2 linked regions of the Homo sapiens genome follow. The main gene of each other region encodes a partner of the protein of the gene in region 2 in a complex. Each region holds a gene or a part of one and is shown on either strand. Other genes may lie near its edges. A codon is read from its position in the direction of its gene.

What was found.
Region 1: the proteins of FIS1 (region 2) and BCAP31 are in contact, whole or in part, in a crystal structure (PDB 8XWX), measured with the Homo sapiens proteins. Residues at the interface, in NP_057152.2 of Homo sapiens: Arg52 (codon at 4,128), Val56 (codon at 4,116), Glu59 (codon at 4,107), Glu60, Pro63, Lys64, Lys89; in NP_001132913.1 of Homo sapiens: Asp224, Leu227, Glu228, Ala231, Lys232, Ala235.

The regions. Positions count from the first base shown.
Region 1 is NC_000023.11:153,717,082-153,728,671, forward strand, and holds the start of BCAP31 (B-cell receptor-associated protein 31), read right to left. Parts: upstream 7,307-11,590; 5' UTR 7,253-7,306; exon of another isoform or gene 7,120-7,252; intron 7,047-7,119; exon of another isoform or gene 6,584-7,046; coding exon of another isoform or gene 6,427-6,583; intron 6,208-6,426; coding exon of another isoform or gene 6,164-6,207; coding exon 6,072-6,163; intron 3,892-6,071; coding exon 3,791-3,891; intron 1-3,790. Other genes in the region: ABCD1 (ATP-binding cassette sub-family D member 1), read left to right, coding at 8,186-9,085. UniProt on the Homo sapiens protein: Functions as a chaperone protein. Is one of the most abundant endoplasmic reticulum (ER) proteins.
Region 2 is NC_000007.14:101,239,904-101,251,161, forward strand, and holds the start of FIS1 (mitochondrial fission 1 protein), read right to left. Parts: upstream 5,179-11,258; 5' UTR 5,102-5,178; coding exon 5,057-5,101; intron 4,237-5,056; coding exon 4,104-4,236; intron 1,004-4,103; coding exon 927-1,003; intron 345-926; coding exon 239-344; intron 1-238. UniProt on the Homo sapiens protein: Involved in the fragmentation of the mitochondrial network and its perinuclear clustering. Plays a minor role in the recruitment and association of the fission mediator dynamin-related protein 1 (DNM1L) to the mitochondrial surface and mitochondrial fission.

The sequences.
Region 1 (11,590 bases), on a different chromosome or scaffold from region 2:
ACATTTTTTGGGTCCATCTCTCCCAAAGTAGACTACAAACTTCATAAGAGCAGAAATCTTTTATACTATATTCCCAGGGCCTGGGATAGCTCTGGGTGCAGAGTGGGCACTGAAATAATTGCTGAGTCAGTGAGCAGCCTCTGCTCCTGAAAGAGCCGCTGTTAGACATATAGAGCTCCAGTTAAAAATATATTTATATTTGTCTCTAATGTAGAAATTGAGCCACGCCAAACCTACTGCTTTTCCCCATGCATCCTGAGACATCGTTTTAAGTCAATACACTAAGATGTACCCAAAGAATGCTCTTAATAGACTCCCATATGAGAGGAGCAAGGTATCACTGTATGGGTATCGAGGTTCTTTTTGTATGGTGGGTTACAGGGTCTCACTCTGTCACCCAGGCTTGAGTGCAGTGGCACGATCCCAGCTCACTGCAACCTCCACCTCTCAGCCTCCCCAGTAACTGGGACCACAAGTGTGTGCTACCACACTCAGTTAATTTTTTCTTTTTCTATTTTTGGTAGAGACGGGGTTTCGCCATGTTGCCCAGGCTAGTTTCAAACTCCTGAGCGCAAGCAACTGCCTCAGCCTCACAAAGTGTGGGGATTACAGGCGTGAGTCAGGGCACTGGCCTCATGGGGTTCTTAATTTCCGGTTTTAGGCTGCTTAGTTTTTATGTTGATCTTGCATTATAAAAATCTGCCCATCCCTCAGCACCACGAAGCGAGTACTCTCAAACGCTGTTAGCAGGGGTAAAAACAGCACACCTGTATAAAATGCAAAATGTTCATACCCTCGGGTTCAACAATTCACCTCTGAAATTATCCCACAGAAGTATTTGCATAAATTTGCAATGATTCGAAGATGCTTATAAAGAATGGATTACGGCACAACCACATGAGAGAATACTACATGATCTTTAAGAAGAATGAGATTGCTATAAAAAGATGTTGGCCGGACACAGTGGCTCATGCCTGTAATTTCAGCACTTTGGGAGGCCGAGGTGGGCGGATCACTTGAGGCCAGGAGTTCAAGACCAGCCTGGCCAACACGGTGAAACCTCGTCTCTACTAAAAATACAAAAAATTAGCCGGGCATGGTGGCGGGCGCCTGTAACCTGCAGCTACTCGGAAGCTGAGGCAGGGGAAATCGCTTGAACCTGGGAGGCGGAGGTTGCAGTGAGCCAAGATGGCGCCACTGCACTGCAGTCTGGGCAACAAAGTGAGATTCCATCTCAAAAAAAAAAAAAAAAAAAAAAGATGTCTAACGTGCAGCAGGTAGAAAAAGCACAATCCAAAGTATTGGCTAGGCTCTGCTATGGACAGCAGTCTTATCTCAGAGCTGTGCTACCAGCTCAGGCGTGGAATGCTCCTCCTGCCATGTCCCAGCAGGAATGTGGAAAGAAACATAAATACTTTGTGTGTATGATCCCACCGTTGTAGACATTTTATTAAAGATGTCAGCATACAAAACCCCTCTGGAAATGCACAACAAAATACTCATGATGGTTACCTGTGGGAAATGGGATTATGGGGAGTTTAACTTTCTAAATTCAACTTTTGAATTTTTAAGAATAATTACCCATTATTTTTGTAATCAGAAAAACAAGATAAACATGTTTCCTTACACTGTCACCTGCATCCAGGAACCCCACCATCCTAAGGACCACCTTGGCCAATGACCAATAGTGGGGATGGGGGACTGAGCAATACTAACCCAAGTCCCACAGTAGAAACCAGCCCTCCCTGTCTCGGGCCTCAGCCCAGGTGGGAAGATCCTGCACCCTCAGCAACTCCATCCTCCAGGAGGATCTGCTCAACCCTCCCCACCCCCAAGCAAGGCCACAGCTCTAGCTAGTTATGCCCCTTACCCTTCACTAGTACCTGTGACTAACACTTCTGTTTGAAGAAGGCTCTGCAGATCTTTCTAGATTATGCTTCTTAACATGGGAGTAGGAAGCAGCCAGTCATCATGGCCATATGTCCCCCTAGAACTTCCAAGCAGTTCCCCGATCCCAAAAAAGAATGAAGGCTTTGTCAACTACTGGATTCCGCAAAGGATCTCTCCAGCCCACTCAGCTGCTCTAGGAAAGAAACATACTCCTTCTGGTTTGGGGAAGGGGCAAGACCCTGAGGGAATCATCCTCAGCATGGTCCCTCCCCTCCCCAGTTATTACCCCCACCCCAGACCCAAAAGCCAAAACACACATGCTCAGTTCAAAAACTCAGTGGCCTGGGGATGACACATATATTACCTACCTACTCCTGGCTTGGAGGCTGCTCAGGGCGAGAACCCTGGTTAGAAAGAGCTACTACCTCTTGGGGCCTTGCCAAGTATTTCAAGAACACTGAGGTGCTCAGGCAGCTGGCACCTACCCTATGTGGTTGGAAGCTGTCAGGTAACACTTGGCCTGTTCAGAGGCAGTCCAGCCTGAACATATCCTATCAGGCTCTGAGACATCAGGAAGGAGAAATGCCTAATGCTGAAGCTGGTGGGTGAGGCTTTGCACATTCCCCTGAACCACAGCCCCCCACCCGCTCAGTGTTTCTGCTGGGACTCGGTGGGAGGAGTGTTCCACGCCTAGGCAGGCACCACAGCTCTGAGACAAGAGTGGTGTCCACAGCAGAGCCAAGCCAATACTTTGGAGCCCAAACAGGGGGACATATCGATCACTTACCACAGCAAAACAACAAACATCTACCAGTCAGACAAGAGCTTTATTGATTCTTGTCTCCAGATGGTCACCCTACCACCTCATTGCAAAATGTCTGCCTTTCATCTTACCACCACCTGGCCTGGCCTTATCCCAGAGCCTGCTTGCCCTTGGACCAGTTTATCTTTCAAGCACCTGCTAGTGTACACCTCAATGTCAGAGTTTACAGAACTACAGAGCTGGAACGACCTGGGAAAACCTCAAGTCTAGCCCAGATGCAGAGAGGTCTAGGATCTCTCCCCAAGATATGCTGCCACACATCTCTGTGTTCTCCTCCTACTACTACAGGGAATGGCAGGACTTCACTGTGTGCTTGGTTGCTCAGTCCCCCATTAGAGGCCCTGCTCCAGGCAATTCTGCTGTTTAAGTGACTGGTGAGCAGCACTACTCAGACCAAGGTCACAGGCCAGTTAGCTTCTCTTGGCTTCAGTTCTAGAGTGACCTGAGGAGCAGCCTCAGAAACCTTAGGCGTCCCTCCTTCCAAGGTCTTGAAAAAAAGCAATGTAAGGTGGCCGTCATAAGCTGCATACAAACTGCTTGGTATAAGCCCACGCCCACTGCTAGAGGGGCCTCTTTTTTTTTTTTTTGAGATGGAGTCTCCCTCTTGTTGCCCAGGCTGGAGTGCAATGGTGCGATTTAGGCTCACTGCAACCTCTGCCTCGTGGGTTCAAGCAATTCTCCTGCCTCAGTCTCCCAAGTAGCTGGGATTACAGGTGCCCGCCACCACGCCCAGCTAATTTTGTATTTTTCGTAGAGATGGGGTTTCACCACGTTGGCCAGGCTGATCTCGAACTCCTCATCTCAGGTGATCCACCGACCTCAGCCTCCCAAAGTGCTGGGATTACAGGCATGAGCCACCATGTACGGCCTAGAGGGGCCTCAAAGTGAAGAACCGACTAGCGGTCAGCAGCATGGGCAAAGGGAGCCTCTTCCCTCCCTCAAGAGAAAGACACAGCATTTCATTGGTCTGTCTCCTAGCAGCCAAAACTGGATGCTACACATCAAAAGTGGCAAAGGGTTTTGCAGCAGAGACCAGGGTCTAGGTCAGGTAGCTGCCCTCAGCCATAGCTCACTCACCGATGACCAACAGCACAAGGATGACAATGAGAACCACAAAGAAGGTGTTGCCATAGGACACTAACAACTCCACCAGCCGGGACTTGAAAATCTTCTGCCATCTGTGAAGAAGACAAAAAGGACAGGAGTTGAAGAGAAAGCACACACACGAGCTCTAGGGCCCTGAGCAAAATGGAAATCCAGCTTTGTACTCTTCTCCAATGGCCGAATAGCCCATGCAAAGTCAGCCTCAGTGGCTTGCAATTCTCTAATTTGACATCCATTCAAGACTATTGGAAAAAAGGCCAGGTGCAATGGCTCACACCTGTAATCTCAGCACTTTGGGAGACCAAGGTGGGTGGATCACTTGAGGTCAGGAGTGCAAGACCAAACTGGCCAACATGGCGAAACCCTGTCTCTACTAAAAGTACGAAAATTAGCCAGGCGTGGTGGTGGGCACCTGTAATCCCAGCTACTCAGGAGGGTGAGGCAGGAGAATCACTTGAACCTGGGAGGCGGAAGTTGCAGTGAGCCGAGATCGCGCCACTGCACTCCAGCCTGGGTGACAGAGCGAGACCTTGTCTCAAAAAAAAAAAAAAAAAAAGATGCTGGTCCACGTATAGATCAAAATGTCTGGAAAACTAATCTTTTTTTTTTTTTTTTGAGACAGAGTCTTGCTCTGTTGCCCAGGCTGGAGTGCAGAGGTGTAAGCCACCGCGCCCAGCCTGGAAAACTAATCTTAAACGTGGGCAGTTGGCTGGGCGCACTGGCTCACGTCTGTAAACCCAGCACTTTGGGAGGCTGAGATGGGCAGATCACCTGAGGTCAGAAGTTCAAGACCGGCCTGGCCAACATGGTGAACTCCCATCTCTACTAAAAATATATATATAAAAAAAAATTAGCTGGGCATGTTGGCAGGCACCTGTAGTCCCAGCTACTCGTGAGGCTGAGGCAGGAGAATTGCTTGAACCCGGGAGGTGGAGGCTGCTGTCAGCCGAGCACCACACCACTGCACTCCAGCCTGGGTGACAGAGCAAGACTCTGTCTCAAAATAAAAACAAAAACAAACAAAAAAACCACAACAACAAAAAGAAAACATACTGGTAGTCTCTGAAAAGGGAAACTTACTTTTCATTGTACTCCCCTTTGTAATATTCAAATGTTTGCCCCATACACGTTATTTCTTTAAACTGTCTTTCCACATGATAAACCTTGGTTTGTCTATATCCCCCGACCCTGTTATGATGAGATGGACCCCAGACCTCACATCATTTCCATCCACAAATGCTTTGGGATGCAGCTCTAAGAAGAGACTTCAGAAGTGTTTACATATTGTTCAAATCAACAAGAAGCCCTCATCATCAGGGCTAGAGTTGAATATGCCAATCACTGAAGGCAATGATATTTGTTTGAATCCGGACCCAACAAGGTACCGATTTGGCATTCGGTAGATAAACGTCTTAAATCCAGCTTATTCTGGAAGCTCCCCCTTCCCTCTCCCTCTTTCATTTGCTTTTCCAGTTTCCTTTGTGTAGAAATCAGATTGTCTGTCCTCTAAAGCTTCCCAGATTAAAGCTCCCCGGGGCCCTCTATCTCTGCACGTCTTGTCAACTGTACGAAGGTGTGGTTTTCTACAAGAATCCTCCTCAGACAGCACTGCATACTTTCTATGGTATCACATCAAAGATAATTTTTCACGAAAAAACGGCTTTTAAAAATACCTGTGGAGATTTGGCCTTATTTGTAATATCGTAATTTAAATAGGGATGTGTTCAGGTATTATACATAATTAAAATTAATCTCCAATTCACTTTTAACAGGTCCTCTGTTCATTAAAAGGGAATATGGCTTCATCCTCCACAGGCTGAGTAATGTTCATGCAGCCACTGCGCAATACCAGTGAGACTAGTTAGGAGGACAAGAGTCACCAAATCAGCAACAACGTGACCCAGTGGTGCAAGTCTTCCGAATCCCACGCTACCATCCCAGCACCCCGTGGACCAAGAGTGGGTGGGAGGGCATCATTTCCAGAACTGTAACATAGATCTTCCTGCCTCTCGGGGGCATTCTGAAGACCAGAAGGCAGGGGACACAGGAAAAGGAACTGAGCAAGTCATGACGAAGCAGAACCCTGGGAAGGGTTGGCAATAACAAACACAACCCCTGCCACCCCCACCCCAGACAGGTTCTACCTGTTCCATCGGGTCCCAATTCCAGGGTCCACCAGCTGCACACACCAGTCCCAGGGCTAGGGCACAGGCACCCTCCTGCCTAACTCGCCTGCTTGCTCCATAGGCCATACCTTTTAGGAGAAATGAAGGGAATGCAGAGAAGCAACACAACAAAGACCTCCGCATAGAGGAAGGTGGCAACTGCAGTCCACTGCAGACTCATCCTGTTGCTAGAAGGTTTCCCACAGGAAGATGTGAGCTTGTTTCCTGGCAGGGCACAAAAGGTACGGGACTTGTAAGCGCTGGGCAGCCAAGAACATCCAGTTCAGTTACCCTGCGAGGCTGGGGCCGCCACTCTCCACCCTGACCCCCTGCACTTTGCTTCAAAGTCTCTGATGCGCTGGCGGAAGCAGGGCTCCACTCGGCAGGGCCTCTTGGCCAGCAGCGTTCACAGGCCCCACAAACTTCCGTTCGCTGGTCAATTACCTGCCCCCTCCAGCACGTGTGTCAACACGTCCAGAGCGGCCTCTCCCGACGATCCCTGCCCCAGGAAGCCCGAGATTTCCGACGCCCGTTTAACTGAAAGGCGTTCTTCGGGAAGAGCAGTGCCAGGGCACCAAGAGGAGGACGCCTCGGCACCCATCGGGCGCTCCCTTCCCCGCCAGGCAGAACTCAGCCGCAGAGGCGGGCGCTCTGCGGGCCCAAATCCCCGCTACCAGGCAGGCCCAAGGCCGCACCTAGTCCAAGCGCTGCCGACGCCCCCGCCTCCCACCGTCCCCACGGCGCCCGCGGAGAGAAACCGGCACCTCCCTCGAGGATCCAGCGGCCTTCCGCCCGGGGCCGCTTCGCCTCCGGTGGGCTGGAGGCCCGCAAGAGCGACTCCTAGAGGGCAGGATTCGGGACCAAGCGCAAAGGCAGGTCTCGACCAAGCACCTCAAGGCCCCATACGGAGAAAGTTCTAGACGCAGTATCCTCAGAAGCCAGGGGTCCTTACAGTAGCCCTCGCGGGCCCCAGCGCCCACCCAGAGCGAGGGGCCTCCGACTTGGCCCCGGCCTGGCACACCGTCCCGGAGGCCCATCCCGGCCGCTCCTCCAGGTGGGGCTTCACCGCCCCCCGCCCCGCCCCCGAGACCAGCTTCTAGAGGCGCCGCCCGGTTTCCCCTCGCCCCTGCCTCTCACACGCAGGTAGGCTGCGGGCCCCGAGATTCCCCGGCCCCCGGGCCTCCCCGCGCCGCTCGCCTCTCTCCCTCGTCGATGGGCCGGGGAGCCTCCGCGGTCCCGGAGCCCAGCCCGGCGCGCGGAGCCCGCTCACCGAGTTTCCCACAGTCAACGTGCAGGCCCCGCCGCAGCAACAGAACTCTCCCACAGCAGCCCCGGCCCCGCCCCTCATACCGCGGCCGGAAACCGGAAGCGCCCGCCGGGCACCGCCCACCAGCCCTCGCGAGGCCCCGGAGGCTCCGCCCACCTCCGCTTCCCACCCCGCCCCGGAGCGGAGGGCCGGCGCTCCGAGCGGGAGAGGAAGAGGCGCCTCGGGCTCCGGGCGAGCAGGGCGGGGTGGAGCGAGCACGCGGGCGGGGCGGGGCGGGGCTTTGTCGGGCCGGCGAGGGCCGCTTCTCTAGTCCGCGCGGCCGTCCCACGTCTCTGTGGTGCGGGAGGGGCCCCGCCGAGGGGCGAGAACGGGAGGTGGGGGTGTGGGCGGGCCCCGCCGAGGGGCGAGAACAGGGTGGGGCTCCCGCGCCCGGACTCCGCCCCTCGCCCCTCCTCCGCCTCCTCCCCTTCCCCCGACTCGCCCCTGGGGAAGAGTGGGTGGGGATTCTGGGCCGGTGGAGGAGTCACTGTCGCTTCAGCCAGGCTGCGGAGCGGACGGACGCGCCTGGTGCCCCGGGGAGGGGCGCCACCGGGGGAGGAGGAGGAGGAGAAGGTGGAGAGGAAGAGACGCCCCCTCTGCCCGAGACCTCTCAAGGCCCTGACCTCAGGGGCCAGGGCACTGACAGGACAGGAGAGCCAAGTTCCTCCACTTGGGCTGCCCGAAGAGGCCGCGACCCTGGAGGGCCCTGAGCCCACCGCACCAGGGGCCCCAGCACCACCCCGGGGGCCTAAAGCGACAGTCTCAGGGGCCATCGCAAGGTTTCCAGTTGCCTAGACAACAGGCCCAGGGTCAGAGCAACAATCCTTCCAGCCACCTGCCTCAACTGCTGCCCCAGGCACCAGCCCCAGTCCCTACGCGGCAGCCAGCCCAGGTGACATGCCGGTGCTCTCCAGGCCCCGGCCCTGGCGGGGGAACACGCTGAAGCGCACGGCCGTGCTCCTGGCCCTCGCGGCCTATGGAGCCCACAAAGTCTACCCCTTGGTGCGCCAGTGCCTGGCCCCGGCCAGGGGTCTTCAGGCGCCCGCCGGGGAGCCCACGCAGGAGGCCTCCGGGGTCGCGGCGGCCAAAGCTGGCATGAACCGGGTATTCCTGCAGCGGCTCCTGTGGCTCCTGCGGCTGCTGTTCCCCCGGGTCCTGTGCCGGGAGACGGGGCTGCTGGCCCTGCACTCGGCCGCCTTGGTGAGCCGCACCTTCCTGTCGGTGTATGTGGCCCGCCTGGACGGAAGGCTGGCCCGCTGCATCGTCCGCAAGGACCCGCGGGCTTTTGGCTGGCAGCTGCTGCAGTGGCTCCTCATCGCCCTCCCTGCTACCTTCGTCAACAGTGCCATCCGTTACCTGGAGGGCCAACTGGCCCTGTCGTTCCGCAGCCGTCTGGTGGCCCACGCCTACCGCCTCTACTTCTCCCAGCAGACCTACTACCGGGTCAGCAACATGGACGGGCGGCTTCGCAACCCTGACCAGTCTCTGACGGAGGACGTGGTGGCCTTTGCGGCCTCTGTGGCCCACCTCTACTCCAACCTGACCAAGCCACTCCTGGACGTGGCTGTGACTTCCTACACCCTGCTTCGGGCGGCCCGCTCCCGTGGAGCCGGCACAGCCTGGCCCTCGGCCATCGCCGGCCTCGTGGTGTTCCTCACGGCCAACGTGCTGCGGGCCTTCTCGCCCAAGTTCGGGGAGCTGGTGGCAGAGGAGGCGCGGCGGAAGGGGGAGCTGCGCTACATGCACTCGCGTGTGGTGGCCAACTCGGAGGAGATCGCCTTCTATGGGGGCCATGAGGTGGGGCAGGTTGGGGTGCCGGGCACGGAGGGAAGCGTGTGGCAGGGAGGCCCGGGGGCAGGCAGCCGTGAGCGGTGGGGACAGTCTGGGGCGGGCCGGGGCTGATGCCAAAGGTGTGGGCAGGCCATGGGAGAGCCGGGCTGGGGTGGGCAGGGCCTTTGGGCAGCCGTGGACTCAGGCGCGGCAGTGGAGAGGCAGGAAGGCTGGGTGGGGACTGTCCTGTGCTGGTTGCCTGCACGCTCGAGGCCACTTCTGCTTCCTCTCCTCCTCAAGGAGGTTGTCCTGGCCTTAGAGCTGCGATCCTAGCGGTTTGAGCCTCGAGAGCTCCTGCCCGCCCCACTCCTGCAGCCAGCCAGGAGGAGACGCCTGCCATTCATGAGCGGGGACCGAGGGACGCAGCCTGCTGCCTAGCCCCTCCTGGGCCCTTGGGCCCTTTGAAGGCCGGCGTCCAGCAGAGCTGGCTGGCCAGGCAGGCCGGCATTATGGGCATGACTCAGCCCAAGCGGAGGTTAATGAGCAGCGCCCAGCACAGCAGTGGGACTTGGGGTCAAGGCCACCCCCGCCTGAGCCCACAGGCCTGCCTGGCTACCAACTGGCTCAGCTGCCTTCCCGGGCCCCCAGACCAGAGATGCCGGGCCCAGGCCGCCACTGCGGCGGGACACACTTCCTGCTCCTGGCGTGGCTGTCCTTCCAACCCTGTCTGTCTCCTGGCTCCCTGGTGGGCCGGGGCCGGCGGGCCAGACAGGCGCTGGGAAAGGTTACTCCAGGTCAATGCTCCCTTTATCTCGCCTCAGCCCCTCCCCTTCCTCGTGCCTGGGGTTGCAGCTGCCTTGGGCCCTGCTCTCTGCGACTCAGTTTCGGTTCCCCAGTGCTTCTTGGGAGGAGGGGCACAATGGCATCCATCCCCCGAAGGCCTGTGTGTGCTCCCTGGGTCAGGTGGCCTCTTGCCCTGGGACCTTGTCTCACTGGCTGTGCACCAGCAGAGAAGCAGGCTTGTCCCCGAATTCCACGGAGAGGGGCATCCCGGGTGTGGGCCAGACTGCAGATTCAGAGAAAAGGCCCCTGGACTTCAGCCACCACCCTGGCTTCCCTCTCCTCTTCTCCCGCATGCTGGGCTGCAGGGCCTTGGCAAGCAGCTGCAGCCTTGGGCGAGGCGCTTGGCACATTCCCCGCAGCTACATTGTCAGCCTTGGCTGGCACCCCTGCCAGCTCCCAGCACGAGTCTGGATTGCCAGGGTGCTTGCTTCAGGAATGGGAGATCGGGCTTGCAGGGAGCTCAGCTGTGCAGGCCGACCTGGGTGGCGGGGGCAGAAGAGAGATCACTGGTTCTTTGAAGGCCTTCGTCCGGGCTAGCTTCAGGAAGTAGAGAGATTACTGGTTCTTTGAAGGGCTAGCTTCAGGAAGTAGCACGTTGGCCAAGAGGGTTTGTTGGCCAGGGCAGGAGGGCCCGGTGTGCATTCACGGCCTGTCTGCATAGGCCTCGGCTGGAAAGCTGTGTGGGGTGAGAGGACCCTCGGGTAGCATGTGGCCCATGGCAGTCCCACTGGCTGATGTCCCCGTGGACACTGGCCTAGGCTCAGATCAGGGCAGAAGCAGCTGACTGGCTGGAGGGCACATAGCAGAGTATTCTGTCCTTTCTGGGATTGCCGCGAGGAGGCTTATTGAAACGCACATGCACACGATCTCTTGTTTGAGAACAAAGTAAAGCTCTCTTGATAAGTCTAAGCATCATTTACAAGAATGTGGTTCTTCTGGCAGCTCTGCCAGTGTGGTCCAAATTCCCACACTGGTTGCCACCATCAGGCTGTATGGGCTTGGGCAGGTCACTTTGCCTCCCTGGGCTTCAGTGTTCTGTGTACAGTGGGCACGTGAATACACATGCAGTGGGATGTGGGGAGAATCAAATGCAGAGACGTGAAAGCACTTGGCAAACAGTGGCAGGCTAGGCAGCTGTCATCAGACGGCTGTGGGGAGGCAAGGCTGGGGTGCGTGCCCCTGGACTGAGCCCAGAAATTCACAACCCCTTGGCTACCTTGCTGGGAGCACTTCCCAACACCTCCCATCTCCCCCGCCTGTCTGACTGCTGCTGCCACCTCTTCCCTGCGGCTGTCCCTTTCCCCACCTGCTGGTGTCCTGACATAGTGGTGGCCAGTGCAGGAAGGGGGACAGAAGGACAGGGGAGGCCTACCCACTGCTGAGGGAGCAAGGTCCAGGCTCAGCAGTGGGGACATCCACTGGGGCGAGTCCTGTAGGGCCCAGCTCAGGAGCGCATCCTCCTGGTTTCAGTGGGAAAATGCCATGCAAATTTCTCACCAAAAGGAAGTGTGGGAAAGTTGAGGGGAAAGAGGGCGTAAATAGGCCCAGACTGTTGAACCGAGTTTTTCAGAACCAAGAGACAGGGTTTCACTGTGCTGCCCAGGCTGGGGTGCAGTGGCGCCATCACTGCAGCTTCAAACTCCAGGGCTCCCGCGATCCTCCCACCTCAGCCTCCCGAGTAGCTGGGAC
Region 2 (11,258 bases):
CTGGGGAAGGAAAGGGACAGTGTCAGGAGCCCGGCCCCTGCGGAAACCCTGACCGTCCCCTTCCGCCAGCCCTGCCCCTCAACAGAGGCACACCCCTACCTGGAGTCGCAGGGCAAGGGGCTCTAAGAACTGGAAGGGGTGGGGCTGAGGGGCTGCCTGGAGGGGTTCATTTACAGAGAGACCAAAGTGCCCAGGCGTGGGGAAGAGCGGGGCTGAACAAAGGGGCCGAGGCTGTCACCTTTCTTCATGGCCTTGTCAATGAGCCGCTCCAGTTCCTTGGCCTGGTTGTTCTGGGGCTCTGTCTGCAGCAACCCGCGGACGTACTTTAAGGCCTTCTCGTATTCCTGCGCTCGGGGAAACGCGCACGCGTCATACACACCGCAGTGTTTTTTTGTTTGTTTGTTTTTTAATAAGAGACGGGGTCTTGCTCTGTTGCCCACGCTGGACGGCAGCGTCGCAATCACAGCCCACTGCAACCTCAAACTCCCAGGCTCAAGCAGTCCTCCCGCCTCAGCCTCCTGAGTAGCCGGGATTACAGGCGTGAGCCACTGGGCCGGCTACACCTCAGTATCCACCACTCCCCCTGCCCACGTGAAGGGCCTTCCCTTCTTCAGCCCTGGGGGCTCCTCCCTCGACCTCCACCCACTCCCTCCCTCCAGCCCCACCCCACGGAGTAGAGTCCACAAACAACCCCAACTCTGCGGGAGATAACAGCGCAAGGCTTGGGCCTGCACCCAGTCTCTTGACGTCACCTTCCTCCCCACCCCCTCGCCACTCTGATCTTCCCTCGGAGTCCTCATCTGACACCGCTCTGCACCTCTGCACCCCTTCAGCCTTCCCGCTGTCCAGGGCTCCACCCTGGAGGACACAGTAAGAAGGTCCTGCAGCCCCAGAGGAGGGTGAAGGGAACGGGGTCCCCACCTCACCTTGAGCCGGTAGTTCCCCACGGCCAGGTAGAAGACGTAATCCCGCTGTTCCTCCTTGCTCCCTTTGGGCAGCAGCTCTGGGGAGGGGCAGAGAAGAGGGTGAGAAATGCTTCTTTCCTAATACTTTCCTAATACTGTGTCCCAGAGGCCCCTTCCACTCTCTGAATGCCTCTGTGATCCTGGGAGGGTCACAGTCCTAAGCCTCCCTTTCAGCTCCAGTCACTCCCAGCACCCTAGCCAGAGCTCTGGGACAGGGTGAACCCCAGCTGTGCCAACACCCCAGTGACAGAACATGCCTTTTATCAGTATTACAGTCAACTGGTCCATCCAACTGAAATGAGGAAATCGGGGCCCTGGAGAAGCCAAAGGCAGCGTGACTCAGTTTTGGCATCTGCTGTGGTATTTTTTTTCAGACGGAGTTTCACTCGTCGCCCAGGCTGCGGTGCAATGGCGTGATCTCGGCTCACTGCAACCTTCGCCTCCTGGGTTCAAGCGATTCTCCTGCCTCGGTTTCCCGAGCAGCTGGAATTACAGGTGCCCGCCACCACGCCTGGCTAATTTTTGTATTTTCAGTAGAGATGGAGTTTCACCATGTTGGCCAGGCTGGTCTCAAACTCCTGACCTCAAGTGATCTGCCTGCCCTGGCCTCCCAAAGTGCTGCCGTTGTGGTTTTAACTAAACTGCCTGCTGTACAATTATTGTTTAAAAAAAAAAAAGTTAGGACTCCCTCCCCCTTTAAAAAAATCAGCTCAAAACTCACCTTCAATCAGCCTTCCCCGAAGACCCCACCTGACTTTGTCTTCCTTCCTTTTTTTTTTTTTTTTTTTTTTTTTTAAAGAGACAGGGTGGGCCGTGAGCCGTAGCTCATGACTATAATCCCAGCACTTTGGGAAGCTGAGCCGGGCGGATCACCTGAGGTCGGGAGTTTGAGACCAGCCTGACCAACATGGAGAAACCCCGTCTCTACTAAAAATACAAAATTAGCCGGGCGTGTTGGCACATGCCTGTAATCCCAGCTGTTCGGGAGGCTGGGGCAGCAGAATTGCTTGAATGCGGTAGGCAGAGGTTGCGGTGAGCCAAGATTGCACCATTGCACACTCAGTCTCGGGAAAAAAAAAACAAAAAACGGAGACAGGGTCTCGCTCTGTCACTCCAGTCTGGAGCACAGTAGCATGTCCATGGCTCACTGCAGCCTCAAACTCCTGGGGTCAGTGATCCTCCTGCCTCAGCCTCCCAAGTAGCTGGGACTATAAGCACACACCACCATGCCTGGCTAATTTAAACATCTTTGTTACACAGACAGGCCAGGTGGTCTCAAATTCCTGACTTCAAGCCATCCTCTGGCCTTGGCCTCCCAAAGTGCTGAGATTACAGGCATGAGCCACAGTGCCTGGCCCCACCTGACTTTCTTAATTCAGAGACTTCCCAGAGGATAACTGTACTGTATGCACTAGAATTTGTTGCTAAATAATTCTGCAGGTGTTTATAAATCTTCCTGTCTGTACTGTTTTCTCAACTAGACTGGCAACACTTAGAGAGGCTGTTTCTTCTACACCTACACCCTGCTGTAGAATAAACCTGAAAATCTGAATTGCCGAAGTAGACAAACATAGGGTAAAATTATTTGTATCTTTTAAGAAAGAGTCTTATTTTTATAGTTTTTTTTTTTTTTTTTTTGAGACGGAGTCTCACTGTGTTGCCCAGGCTGGAGTGCAATGGCGTGATCTTGGCTCACTGCAACCTCTGTCTCCCGAGTTCAAGTGATTCTCCTGCCTCAGCCTACTGCGTAGCTGGGATTAAAGGTGTGCGCCACCAGGCCCAGCTAATTTTTGTATTTTTAGTAGAGACAGGGTTTCACCATGTTGATTAGGCTGGTCTCGAACCCCTGACCTCGTGATCCGCCTGCCCTGGCCTCCCAAGGTGCTGGGATTACAGGTGTGAGCCACTGTGCCTGGCCATTTTTATAGATTTTCAATAGGCATCCTTTGCTAACACAGTCAGCATTCTGTATTCATAGATTCAACGAACCATGGATCAAAAATACTCAGAAAAAAAAAAAAGATAGTTGCATCTGTATTGAACATGAACAGACCTTTTTTTCTTGCCATTATTCCCTAAACAATACAGTATACTATTTACACAGCATTTACATTGTATTTGGTATTATAAGTAATCTACAGATGATTTAAAGTATATGGGAGAAGGTGCACAGGTTACATGTAAATACCATGCGATTTTATATACGGGACTTGGGTGGCTATTGGTATCTGTGGGGGTGGGGTTCCTAGAACCAATCCCCCATGGCTACAGAGGGATGGCTGTACACTGACTGTGTGCTTATAAATGATTATTTGAACACAAGGAGCTACAGAGAAACTAAGTGGTTAAGTATTGTGGCCTCTGACAAATGATGACCCACCTAAAACCAATAGGAAATAGGGTTCCCATCCAAAAAGCACTATCTGGCTGGACGAGGTGGCTCACACCTGTAATCCCAACACTGTGGGAGGCCGAGGTGGGCAGATCACCTGAGGTCAGGAGTTAGAGACCAGCCTGACCAACATGGTGAAACCCTATCTCTACAAAAAATACAAAAATTAGCTGGGCGTGGTAGTGGGCACCTGTAATCCCAGCTACTCAGGATGTTGATGCAGGAGAATTGCTTGAACCGGGAGGTGGTGGTTGCAGTGAGCTGAGACAGCGCCACTGTACTCCAGCCTGGGGGACAGAGCAAGACTCCGTCTCAAACAAAAACAAAAAACAAAAAGCACTATCTGCTCACAATTTTGTAGGACAGTCCTCTGTACCTCTTCCATGCCACAAAAGATTCTCAATAGCTGCTAAGCAACACGGTGGTGGTGTTGGGGGGAAGGGCATGGGCCTAGGTCTCACAAAACAGGAGCTTCTAGTCCCAATTCAGCCATTAACTGATTAGTTGGGTGACCTCAAGTCACTTTCCCAGATCAAGACAGTCCTGGGGGAACTGACATGCTACACTCTGTCTGGCAAAACAATGGTGGGCGGTAAGTAGCCAAAAGTTCACTGGGAGACGTCAAGCTAAGTATAGCCCTTGGTGCAGTAAATCTACCGGAGACAACTCAGAGGTGCCTGGACTACGGGGCCCACATCGCAGAGCAGCCCAGATGGCAGCGGGAAAGGGAGAGTACAGCGCCTCACCCTCGAGCAGCACGATGCCTTTACGGATGTCATCATTGTACTTGCTCCGCACCAGGCACCAGGCGTACTCAAACTGCGTGCTCTTGGACACCGAGCCTGCTGCCTTCTCAGACTGAAATTTCTTTTCAAACTTCTGCCACAGGGGAGGAAAGGAATCATTTAGAAATGTAGGGCGTCAACCATTCTCTATCTGGACATGCCATCTCCCTGGCTCTGCCCCTTTCCCTCGCAGGTCTCGGTATCTGGCACCCCAGCTTCTGCTATCTCCATGCCCGGGACCCAGGCTTTCGGCTCCTCCGGGCCTGCGGGCCAGCTCTTGGGACAGAGGCCCCCGGTCTCCCCTCCCCGCGGCGGTACCGAGCGGAGATGCCACCTGGTGGCAGCTCCAGGCACCGCTCCCGGAGCAGCTGACCCCGGCGGCCGAACAGTAAACACGCTGTCAGAACTGCTCAACAGCCCACGCGGTCCTCATTTGAGGCTGCTGGCCCCATCCTGCCCCACCCTGCCGGGCCTGGACCTTTTATTGTCCAGGAATAGAAGTAGTGCCTACCTCCTAGAGCTACAAAGACTGAGATCTGGCATGCGATGCCTTAGCACCGTGCCGGACGCAGTAATAGGTGACACCTTATGATGGTCACTGTATTCCTCCACCGCTGGAGGAGCGCCCTGAGCTCACAGCTCCTGCATGATCCCAGATCCCGTCAGTCTAACCACGGTCGGGCTCCAGGCCCGTAGTCTGAGGTGTGGGGGGCTCAGGACACTACAACTCCCAGGAGCCTCTGCGGCATAGCAGGCCCTCCGGGCAGGAGCCAGGCGCTGTGGAGGCTGCCGGGAGCCGTAGTTCGGCTTCCCTCGGCCAAGCCGATGCCGGGAGGAGGGTTCGGCCCCTACCTGACTCTCCTCAGGACCCGCCCTCCGACCTTCCCTTTCCCTCTGTCCGGGCCAGGCCTCACCAGCAGGTCCTCCACAGACACCAGCTCGTTCAGCACGGCCTCCATGGCCACTGCCCCCGCGAGCCTCACACTACAGTCTACTGTGCCACAGTCTCCATGGCCCAGTGGCAGGGGCGGAGAACCACTTCCGGCGTCCGGCGGATGCTGGCACGACCTGGCGACGCCCCGCCCCTTCCTCTCAGTTCAGCAGCGCCGGCGGGGCGCTAGTGCGCAGGCTCGGCCGGTCCCTCCAGCCCGCAGACTGCGCGCAGGGAGACCTTCCCCAGGTTGGTCTTCCCAGGTGCCTCAGCCGGTGCCTTCCTCTGTGGAGGCTTCCCTAGGGAAACTGGAGGCCATGTCTTGGCGGTTAGCCCCCAGGATGAAAACAGCAAAAAGAGGGTGGGTAGCTGACCAGAGATCACAGTACATTAGGGTGCCAAGCTGACGCCCCTCAGAAATCTAGGACCTTGGAGGCCACGTGACTATTCATCGCCTGCAACAAAATCTTAACTAGAACCGGGAGCCCGGCGCGTAGCTCACGTCCGAAGCCCAACAACTTGGGAGGCCGCGGCGGGAAGATCGCTGGAGGCCAGGAGTTCAAGACCAGCCTGAGCAACATAGCGAGACCCTATCTCTACAAAATTTTTAAAAAAATCAACCGGCGTGGTGGCGTGCACCTGTACTCCCAGCTACTGGGGCGGCTGAGGCAGGAGGATCGCTTGAGTCCGGGAGTTCGAGGCTGCAGTGAGTTATCGCGCCACTGCACTCCAGCTTGAGCGACAGAGACCTTGTCTCAAAAAACCCACCAACAGCAGCAAACTAGTATCGGGGTTTCTTGGGCCTCTGCTGACTCTCACAATGCAAGAGCAGAGGCAACTGGATCTGTAAACCACACAGCCACACAGGGGTAGTCATAGGAGACACTATCAACGGGAAGTTTTTCAAAAAGCAACGGCCCCATTATTGGCAGAGAAGGTCCAATTTTCAATATTATTTACATAAACCATTTTGGGAGTGCACCCCAGGCGGGAAACCTGCCACATGGGGTCACGGGCAATGGGGAGCTTAGCAGTGAGGAGCTATCAGAGCATGGGAAGGAGAAAGGTGTGGACACCTCTGGCTTCAGTTTCTGTGCAGTGAGGGGACTGGGTAAGTAGCAACTTTCAAATTCTTTTCCCCTTGAGTCACATTGGAGTGTAAGTTCCTTGAGGGCAGAGACTTACCTTGCTTATCCAGCATCTAGCACAGGGCTTGGCAGAGAGTGAGGGCTCAATAAATATTTGTTGAATAAACACGGAAAAAGCAAATTAATTGTAAACAAGGCACTGCACATGCAGGGGATAATCATCCAGACACCTTCCGCGTTTGCAAAGCCCCTTTAATTTTTATTATTTTTTAGAGACAGGGTCTCATTCTGTGGCCCAGGCTGGAGTGCATGCAGCGGCACAATCAGAGCTTACTGCAGCCTTGACCTCCTGAGCTCCTGTAATCCTCCTGCCTTAGTCTCCCAAGAAGCTGGGACTACAGGTGTGCACCACCACACCCAGGTTGTTTTTTGTTTTTTGTTTTTTTTTTCCGAGACAGTTTCTCGCTCTGTCACCCAGGCTGGAGCGCAGTGGCACAATCTCGGCTCACTGCAACCTCCGCCTCCTGGGTTCAAGCGATTCTCTTGCTTCAGCCTCCCAAGTAGCTGGGATTACAGGCGCCGGCCATCACACCCAGCTAATTTTTGTATTTTTAGCAGAGATGGGGTTTTACCATGTCAGCTAGGCTGGTCTGAAACTCTTGACCTCAGGTGATCAGACTGCCTCGGCCTCCCAAAGTGCTGGGATTACAGGCGTGAGCCACCGTGCCCAGCCAAGCCTCTAATATTTTTCTCCTCATAATAGTCTCGTGAGTTAGAAAGACAAGAGTTATTCTTCCCTATTTGGCGTGGATGGTTGAAATGACTGATACAGTAAGCTCTGTAAGCCTTGAGAGAATCCCCAGGTTGGGGAACTGGCTGCCCACTAGCATAAGCCTCAAGGGGAAAACTTCATGTTCATTCAGAGAAGTATACAGCACCTAATTTTGCCTGGGCCTTGGGGTGGCACAAAGGACACTAGGGCTGAGTGCAGTGGCTCACGCCTGTATTCCCAGCAGTTTGGGAGGCCAAAGCGGGTGGATCACCTGAGGTCAGGAGTTCGAGACCAGCCTGGCCAACATGATGAAATCCCATCTTTACTAAAAATACAAAAAATGCACCTCTGCCCAGCCGCTGTGCAACCTTCCAAGTGTGAAGTGACAGCCTTGTATGTGATCTTTCTGCCCTCCCCAAGTTTGCATTTTCAACATTAAAGTTTACTTTTTAATTAAAAAAAAAATATATATATATATATATGCACACAAAAAAAATTAGCCGGGTATGGTGGTGGGTGCCTGTAATCCCAGTTACTTGGGAGGCTGAGGCAGGAGAATCGCTTGAACCCAGGTGGTGGAGGCTGCAGTGAGCCGAGATCCCATCACTGCACTTCAACCTGGGTAACGAGAGCGAAACTCCATCTCTAAAAAAATAAAAAATAAAAAAGATGGACACGATATGAAGCAGGTGACTGAAAACAGGACTGAAGACGGGAGGCAAACACTGGCAGGGCAGGGGACACAGGAAGATGAAGGGGGCACTCCTTCTATTAGGAGGCTCCTTTTTGGGGGGCAGCCTGAACCACAGTCATGTTTATATTTGCTGCAGCCCTTGGTAGAGGCCTGGTGCATGGCAGAAGCACCATCAGGATTTGCTGAATGTCAACAAGGGATGAAGGGAGAGTGATTTACTCAGGTGGCTCAGTTGTGTGCCAATGAAGAGATCCGTAGTCTGTAGCTTTTCAAGTCTAGTTAGCATAGTCATCCACCTCCGACATAGTGATAGAAAGTAGTCCCTGTTAATTTTACACCCAATGGCTGAGCGCGGTGGCTCACGCCTGTAATCCCAGCACTTTGGGAGGCCGAGGCGGGCAGATCACGAGGTCAGGAGATCGAGACCATCCTGGCTAACATGGTGAAACCCCGTCTCTACCAAAAATACAAAAAAGAAATTAGCCGGGCGTGGTGGCGGGCGCCTGTAGTCCCAGCTACTCGGGAGGCTGAGGCAGGAGAATGGCGTGAACCCGGGAGGTGGAGCTTGCAGTGAGCCGAGATCACGCCACTGCACTCCAGCATGGGTGACAGAGCGAGACTCCGTCTGAAAAAAAAACCCTTTCATGCCTTCTCATTGCCCTTAAAACAAACACAGCCTTCAAGGTCCGTTAGGATCTAGCCATGCTTAATTCTCTTCCTCATCTATCACTACCTCTCCTGGTATGTACTATGTACACTGGCCCTATAGGCCTTCCTTCAGCTCTCAAACCCCTGGTGGCCACAGCTCCGCTACACAGGCAGTCCTCTCTGTTTGGAACATCTGTCTCCTCCTCCATTGCTTATTTGGCTCATTCATTCCCTCATGATTTAATTCATTCAAGAAATACTAATTGAGCTCCTGCTGTGTAGTAGGTGCTCAATTAGTTGCCTACAAATAGTAGCCTGGCACAGTGTAAGCCAAGGTGGAGCTTACATTTTCATGGGGAAAACAGAAAAAAATAACTCAACAAATAAAAGCACTGTGACATAATAAGACCTATATATTTGGGGCCAGGCCCGGTGGCTCATGCCTGTAATCCCAGCAGTTTGGGAGGCCGAGGCGGGCAGATCACCTGAGGGCGGGAGTTCGAGACCAGCCTGACCAACATGGTGAAACCCGTCTCTACTAAAAATATAAAAATTAGCCGGGCGTGGTGACAAGCACCTGTAATCTCAGCTATTGAGGAGGCTGAGGCAGGAGAATCGCTAGAACCCAGGAGGTGGAGGTTGCGGTGAGCACAGATCGCGCCATTGCACTCCAGCCGGGGCAATAAGAACGAACTCTGTCTCAAAAAAAAAAAATATATATATATATATATACATATATACATACACACACATATATATATTTGGTCTCTGCCCTGGTTCCCAACACAAAGGTCCTAAAATCCTTGTAATTTCCTGAGTGATAGAAGTAATAAGAGCATCTTTTTTTTTTTTTTTTTGGAGACAGCGTCTCACTCTGACCCCAGCTTTGACTGCAGTGGCGGGATCCTGGCTCACTGCAGCCTCGACCTCCCAAGTCAGGCGATTCTCCCACCTTGGCCTCCCAAGTAGCTGGGACCACAGGCACACACCACTACACCCGGCTAATTTTTGTATTTTTTTGTAGAGACGGGGTTTTGCCATGTTGTTCAGGCTGTTTTGTTGCCCAGGCTGGTCTGGAACTCCTGAGCTCAAGCAATCCGCCCGCCTTGGCCTCTCAAAGTCCTGGGATTACAGGTGTCAGCCACGGCGCCCGGCCAATAAGAGCATCTTACACAGAGCTCCAAAATCCCTTGCAACATCCTGAGTGACAGGAGTGCCTTTTCTTCTAATGAAGTGACTCGCTGGGCTCCTGGACAGCATCAGGATGAGGGCTGGTCACCAGGAAGACCAAGCCAGGATTTGAAGTTTAGCCTCTTAAGCTTGAACTTTTAGCCTCCCCCCTCATCCTTTGGGGAAGAGAGAGGAGCTGGAGATTGAGTTAATAATCGATCATGTCTACGTGATCAAGCTTACATAAAAAGCCCTTAACTTGGCTGGGCACAGTAGCTCACACCTGTAATCCCAGCACTTTGGGAGGCCGAGATGGGTGGATCATTTGAGGTCAGGAGTTCGAGACCAGCCTGGCCAATATGGTAAAACCCTGTCTCTACTAAAAATACAAACATTAGCCAGGCAAGGTGGAACGTGCCTGTACTCTCAGCTACTCGGGAGGCTGAGGCAGGAAAATCGCTTGAACCTGGGAGGTGGAGGCTGCAGTGAGCCGAGATTGCACCACTGCACTCCAGCCTGGGCGACAGAGCGAGATGCTGTCAAAACAAAACAAAACAAGGCAGGCGCAGTGGCTCACGCCTGTAATCCCAGCACTTTGGGAGGCCGAGGCGGGCGGATCACCTGAGGTTGGGACTTAGAGACCAGCCTGACCAACATGGAGAAACCCCGTCTCTATTAAAGATACAAAATTAGCCGGGCATGGTGGTGCATGCGTATAATCCCAGCTACTTGGGAGGCTGAGGCAGAAGAATCACTTGAACCTGAGAGGCGGAGGTTGTGGTGAGCCGAGATTGCGCCATTGCACTCCAGCCTGGGCAACAAGAGCGAAACGCTGTCTCAAAAAAAAGAAAAGAAAACAACACAAAACAAAACAGAACAAAAATTACTCCTCTGGGAAAATGATGAAAGAAAAAAAATGGAAGAAAAGGAAGACATGAAGATATTCATTCCTGCATTATCTGTGAAGGTAAACAAACAACAAAAATGCCAGGGAATGGTTTTATTAAATGATAATACATCAATATAATGGAATAATATACAGCCTTAAAGTCACAGTCACATGGATTCTATGCCTGTGGACAGTAATACTCAAAACAAAACAAAGAAGTATCTACTTCTCAAATTCAGACAGGTGGGTGAGCAGAAAGGAAACTGACATCTTAGGTTGGTGAGACTAAGACCTAGAACTGGTGTATATGGGCAGATTCTGGGCTCTGGACCCCTCCCTGGAGTACACCAGCAGCTGGGGCCTATTTTGCACTTCCCGCTTCAGCCTTTTGCACAAGAAGGGCTCAGCAAACACCCGCTGAACAGGATTCCATATTTGCGTTCTTCCAATTTTCAGTAATCTGTCTCCTCTACTTCCCAGTTCCATCTGCTATCCAGTTAGAAAGTCCTGTCAACTATCAATTAATTCATTCACCCATCAAAACATTTAAGAACCTACTATGTTTAGGAGGCTGAGGTGGGAGGATTGCTTGAGCTCAGAAGTTCGAGACCAGCCTGGGCAACACAGCGAGACCCCAACACTAAGTTAAAAATAAATACATAAAAATCTTACAAAAAGAACCTACCAGCCGGGCATGGTGGTTCATGCCTGTAATCCCAGCACTTTGGGAGGCTGAGGTGGGCGGATCACCTGAGGTCCGGAGTTCCAGACTAGCCTGGCCAACATGGTGAAACCCCATCTCTACTAAAAATACAAAAATTAGGCAAGCATGGTGGCGGGCACCTGTAATCCCAGCTACTTGGGAGGCTGAGGCAGGAGAATCGCTTGAAACCAGGAGGCGGAGGTTACAGTGGGCCCCAAGAT